2 separate regions of the Homo sapiens genome follow, and region 2 is linked to region 1. Evidence: fine-mapped expression QTL. A gene starts in region 1. The other region holds a variant in brackets. All regions are shown on one strand. Distances are between the middles of the regions.

Evidence for each region. PIP is the estimated chance that this variant, and not a neighbour inherited with it, causes the effect.
Region 2: its variant is the best candidate, but not a certain one, in a credible set for the expression of RSL24D1 in whole blood (INTERVAL, PIP 0.68).

What each region holds. Positions count from the first base shown.
Region 1 is chr15:55,195,648-55,198,447 of GRCh38, reverse strand. RSL24D1 (ribosomal L24 domain containing 1) reads left to right here and starts at 1,507. Exons shown (of 6, transcript NM_016304.3): 1 at 1,507-1,638. The coding sequence starts at 1,558. RefSeq lists enhancers at 1,543-1,702, 1,496-2,387.
Region 2 is chr15:55,138,048-55,140,847 of GRCh38, reverse strand. No RefSeq gene overlaps it. Among named protein-coding and RNA genes, the nearest start is that of RSL24D1, 57 kb to the left of the region's middle. The variant A/G (reference allele first, on the strand shown) is at 1,593.

The DNA of each region.
Region 1 (2,800 bases):
GTGCAGTTTAAAGGAAAGTACCAAATCCAAAATCATAAAAAAATTGGATAAATCTGAATATATAAACAACATATTTCTGCATGGAAAAATACCATGAGCAAAGCTTAAAACATTGATAGGGAAATAATTTCTAAATGCATGTCAGCAAAGGACTAACCTTAACGTGTAAAGTGCTGTTGAAAATCAACGAAAGAATAGAAAACTGCGTAGGACCTGAACAGGCAATTCACAGAAAAAAGCTGAAAAACATTGTGAAAGATTCTTAACATCATTTGTAATTAAATTCAAGTTGAAATAATAATAAGATAAATTTTCATCTCAGGTTGGCAAAGATCACTTTTCACAGCGGGGTAGTGAAACAGACATCTTATTTGTTGATGCTGAGTGTTAATTGGTAAAAACTTTTGGAAGGCAATTTAGTATTATCTGCCAAATTTTAAAACTATTTATCTATATCCAGCTCCTCTGATCCAGCAGTTCTACATAAACCCTCTCCTGAAAAAGCGTACCAACAGATACTTATTATATCAAAAGATAAGAATGCCCATCGATTAGTGACCAATTAAAATACTTTCATACAATGGCATATATATATGAAAAAGAATGTTAAATACCCTTTTACAGTAAAATATGTATCAAATGCCTATTATGTGCCAGGGACTGTTCTAGATACTGGGATGTAGTTGTAAACCAAACGAACTGAAATCCCTGCCCCTCATGGAGCTCACATTCCAATGAAGGGATACAAGGTAACAGCAAGATGCAGAAAAGAGTAAATAGCATATTAACTAGTATTATAAAGAAGAGGACGTAGAGACAGGCAAACACACAAATATACATGTTTGCCTATGCACAGAAAAGCTCTGGCAGGTAATAAATGGAACTGTTTTGCCCCTGGGGAGGAAGACCGCAGGTCTAGGGAGGGAGTCGTAGTTTCCGGCGAAAATATTTGTTTACTACATATGCATATTAATTAAAATGGGGGGGAGGCGGATAACACGATTTTATATTTAAAAAAATTGCTGGTAAAGTCCTTGGAGCATCAGCAACTCAACCGTTTTCATTGCAATGTTCGAAGCAACGCTGGATTGCAGGGTCTTCGCCGCTTACACCCTGCAAATCACTGTGGGACGAGAATCGAGGGCTGGTCTAGGGCAGGCAGTAGACAAATGAGTTAAGAGAGTGCTCTCGAGAGCACTCCGAGGCAAAGCACAAACCAAAGATACATAATACTTGCATAAATGCCGACACACAGAGAGAAAAAACTAGGCGCTGTGAGAGCAAGTTCACAAGGTGGCGCAGAACCACATTTCCCCAAAGTAACAGCGAACAGGTCTAGTCTGCAGCTCTGCGCCTGCGTCAAACGGCAGCGCATTTGACCACACGGCCGCCGGAGGCACAGTCGTGTTCGCATCTGGTCTAACAGACCCGCGAGAACGAAGGACGCTTGCCTTTTTCCGGTCGGGGAAGGGGGAAGAAGGTAACTTCCGGTGACGGGGTTGCATCACTTCCTCTCAAGCTTGGCGTTTGTTTGGTGGGGTTACACGCGGGTTCAACATGCGTATCGAAAAGTGTTATTTCTGTTCGGGGCCCATCTATCCTGGACACGGCATGATGTTCGTCCGCAACGATTGCAAGGTAAGGCGGTCGACACCAGTTCTTGCTTCAGCCTAGCTCCCGCGGTTCCTGGGCGCGGCGGCTCGGTGCTGGGTGCTTCTGCGTCTGCCGTGTTTGGCCCGGGTTCCTCCCGTTGTTCCCCTGGGAGGGTGGCTTAACTGGGCCTCCGTTCTCAACGTTCCGCTTCGGGGGTTTCTCCTTGCCCGTCTTCCGAGCGGCGCTGGCCACCACGCCACCCTTGGGTGGCGTTGGCAGCGAGGAACTTCAGGAGCGATCCCAGCTAGCGCCTACCAGGAATCTTGGATGTCTGTGAGGGCTGTTTGGCCACTCATGTACTTGGGCCAAATTCTTGAATCCAGTAAACTTTGTTGAGTGTATACCCTGTCAGGCATTACACTAAGGTCCATACTAAAGTGTAGAGGTTGATGGAAGTGTTCCGTATTGCTTAATGGTAGAGTTATGTATTAAGTTACTGCAGGTGAGTTGGGGAGGGTCCTGTACGGAAAGACTCAGCATAGAGGTGATATTTATCTTGGATCCTGAATTTTGCGGAAGAAAGCGGAGGGGGCCTTCTAAGTGGAAGGAAAGTGAACATTTTGAGAAAAGGCAGAGAACGGAGCAAATACATTTGTTTGAGGAAGTGACTGGATTGTAAATGATGATAGAGCCTTGGGCGTAGGGCTACAAGTATAATAAGTCTGTAAACGTAAATAATAAATATGAGTCCTAGTTGTGAAAGACGTTTTGAATGGTACATGAATTTGTCCTGTCATTACAGAATGAATCCCGTTCCTCTCTTTCTCAGAGAAACACATTGTTTCTCAGAATTTGATCTCTTACGTTTGCTTCTGAATTACTGGGCGTTTACAGATTCCTGGTTTTCACCAGATCTATTGAGTTGGAATCTTTGGGGGAGGGGAAGAGGGTCTAAGAATCTGTATATTAAGGTGAATTTGACGTGCTAAATAATTACAAGTCTGACTTCTTCACCTTATATCTCTGTAACAGATCAAAGATATTGACCTCATTAATTAGATCCAAGGGATTCAGCTGAAAGTGACGGACCAAAGCCATGTTTGATAACGTAAAAGAACCTAGAAGATTTTGAATACTTGCTCTCAGGAACATGATAAGAAGTTTATAAAAATGAACCAAAAGATTGCCAGGTTGGGGTCTAATTCAG
Region 2 (2,800 bases), 58 kb after region 1:
GTCCTTTGCCCGCTTTTTGATGGGGTTGTTTTTTTTTCTTGTAAATTTGTTTAAGTTCCTTGTAGACTCTGGATATTAGCCTTTTGTCAGATGGATAGATTCCAAAAATTTTCTCCCATTTTGTATGTTGCCTGTTCACTCTGATAGTTTCTTTTGCTGTGCAGAAGCTCTTTAGTTTAATTAGATCCCGTTTGTCAATTTTGGCCCTAGTTGCCATTGCTTTTGGTGTTTTAGTCATGAAGTCTTTGCGCATGCAAAGGGATATGTCCTGAATGGTATTGCCTAGGTTTTCTTACAGTGTTGTCATGGTTTTAGGTCTTACATTCAAGTCTTTAATCCATCTTGAGTTAATTTTTGTATAAGGTGTAGGGAAGGGGTCCAGTTTCTGTTTTCTGCATATGGCTAGCCAGTTTTCCCAACAACATTTATTAAATAGGGAATCCTTTCCCCATTGCTTGTTTTTGTCAGGTTTGTCGAAGATCAGTTGGTTGTAGTAGATGTGTGGCGTTATTTCTGGGGCCTCTGTTCTGTTCCATTGGTCTATATATCTGTGTTGGTACCAGTACTATGCTGTTTTCATTACTGTAGCCTTGTAGTATAGTTTGAGGTCAGGTAGCATGATACCTCCAGCTTTGTTCTTTTTGCTTTCGATTGTCTTGGCTGTATGGGCTCTCTTTTGGTTCCATATGAAATTTAGTTTTTTCTAATTCTGCGAAGAAAGTCAATGGTAGCTTGATGGGGATAGGATTGAATCTATAAATTAATTTGGGCAGTATGGCCATTTTCATGATATTGATTCTTCCTTTCCATGAGCATGGTATGTTTTTCCATTTGTTTGTGTCCTCTCCTATTTCGTTGAGCAGTGGTTTGTAGTTCTCCTTGAAGACATCCTTCACATCCCTTGTAAGTTGGATTCCTAGGTATTTTATTGTCTTTGAAGCAATTGTGAATGGGAGTTCACTCATGATTTGGCTCTCTGTTTGTCTGTTATTGGTGTATAGGAATGCTTGTGATTTTTGCACATTGATTTTGTATCCTGAGACTTTGCTGAAGTTGCTTATCAGCTTAAGGAGATTTTGGGCTGAGACAATGGGGTTTTCTAAATATACAATCATGTCATCTGCAAACAGGGACAACTTGACTTCCTCTTTTCCTAATTGAATACCCTTTATTGCTTTCTCTTACCTGATTGCCCTGGCCAGAACTTCCAATACTATGTTGAATAGGAGTGGTGAGAGAGGGCATCCTTATCTTGTGCTGGTTTTCAAAGGGAATGTTTCCAGTTTTTGCCCATTCAATATGATACTGGCTGTGGGTTTGTCATAAATAGCTCTTGTTATTTTGAGATACATTCCATCAATACCTAGTTTATTGAGAGTTTTTAGCATGAAGGGGTGTTGAATTTTATCAAAGGCCTTTTCTACATCGTGGTTTTTGGCATTGGTTCTGTTTATGTGATGGATTGCATTTATTGATTTGCATATGTTGAACTAGCCTTGCATCCCAGGGATGAAGCTGACTTGATCATGGTGGATAAGCTTTTTGGTGTGCTGCTGGATTCAGTTTGCCAGTATTTTGTTGAGGATTTTTGC[A/G]TTGATGTTCATCAGGGATATTGGTCTAAAATTTTCTTTTTTTGTTGTGTCTCTGCCAGGTTTTGGTATCAGGATGATGCTGGCCTCATAAAATGAGTTAGGGAGGGGTCCCTCTTTTTCTTTTGTTTGGAATAGTTTCCGAAGGAATGATACCAGCTTCTTTTTGTAGCTCTGGTAGAATTCGGCTGTGAATCTATGTGGTCCTGGGCTTTTCTTGGTTGGTAGGCTGTTAATTACTGCCTCAATTTCAGAATTTGTTATTGGCCTATTCAGGGATTCGACTTCTTCCTTGTTTAGTCTTGGGAGGGTGTAGGTGTCCAGAAATTTATTCATTTCTTCTAGATTTTCTAGTTTATTTGCATAGAGGTGTTTATAGTATTCTCTGATGGTAGTTTGTATTTCTGTGGGATTGGTGGTGATATCCCCTTTATCATTTTTTATTGCATCTATTTGATTCTTTTCTCTTTTCTTCTTTGTTAGTCTAGCTAGCACTCCATCTGTTTTGTTAATCTTTTCAAAAAACCAGCTCCTGGATTCATTGATTTTTTTTGTAGGGTTTTTCATGTCTCTAACTCCTTCAGTTCTGCTGTGATCTTAGTTATTTCTTGTCTTCTGCTAGCTTTTGAATTTGTTTGCTCTTGCTTCTCTAGTTCTTTTAATTGTGATGTTAGGGTGTTGATTTTAGATCTTTCCTGCTTTCTCCTGTGGGTATTTAGTGCTATAAATTTCCCTTTAAACACTGCTTTAGCTGTGTCCCAGAGATTCTGGTACATTGTGTCTTTGTTCTCATTGGTTTCAAAGAACTTATTTATTTCTGCCTTAATTTCGTTATGTACCTAGTAGTCATTCAGGAGCAGGTTGTTCAGTTTTCGTGTAGTTGTGCAGTTTTAAGTGAGTTTCTTAATTTTGAGTTCTAATTTGATTGCACTCTGGTCTGAGAGACTGTTATGATTTCCTTTCTTTTGTATTTGCTGAAGAGTGTTTTACTTCCAATTATGTGGTCAATTTTAGAATATGTGCAATGTAGTCCTGAGAAGAATGTATATTCTGTTGATCTGGCATGGAGAGTTCTGTAGATGTCTATTAGGTCCACTTGGTCCAGAGCTGAGTTCAAGTCCTGAATATCCTTGTTAATTTTCTGTCTTGTTGATCTGCCTAATATTGACAGTGGGGTGTTAGTCTCCCACTATTATTGTGTGGGAGTCTAA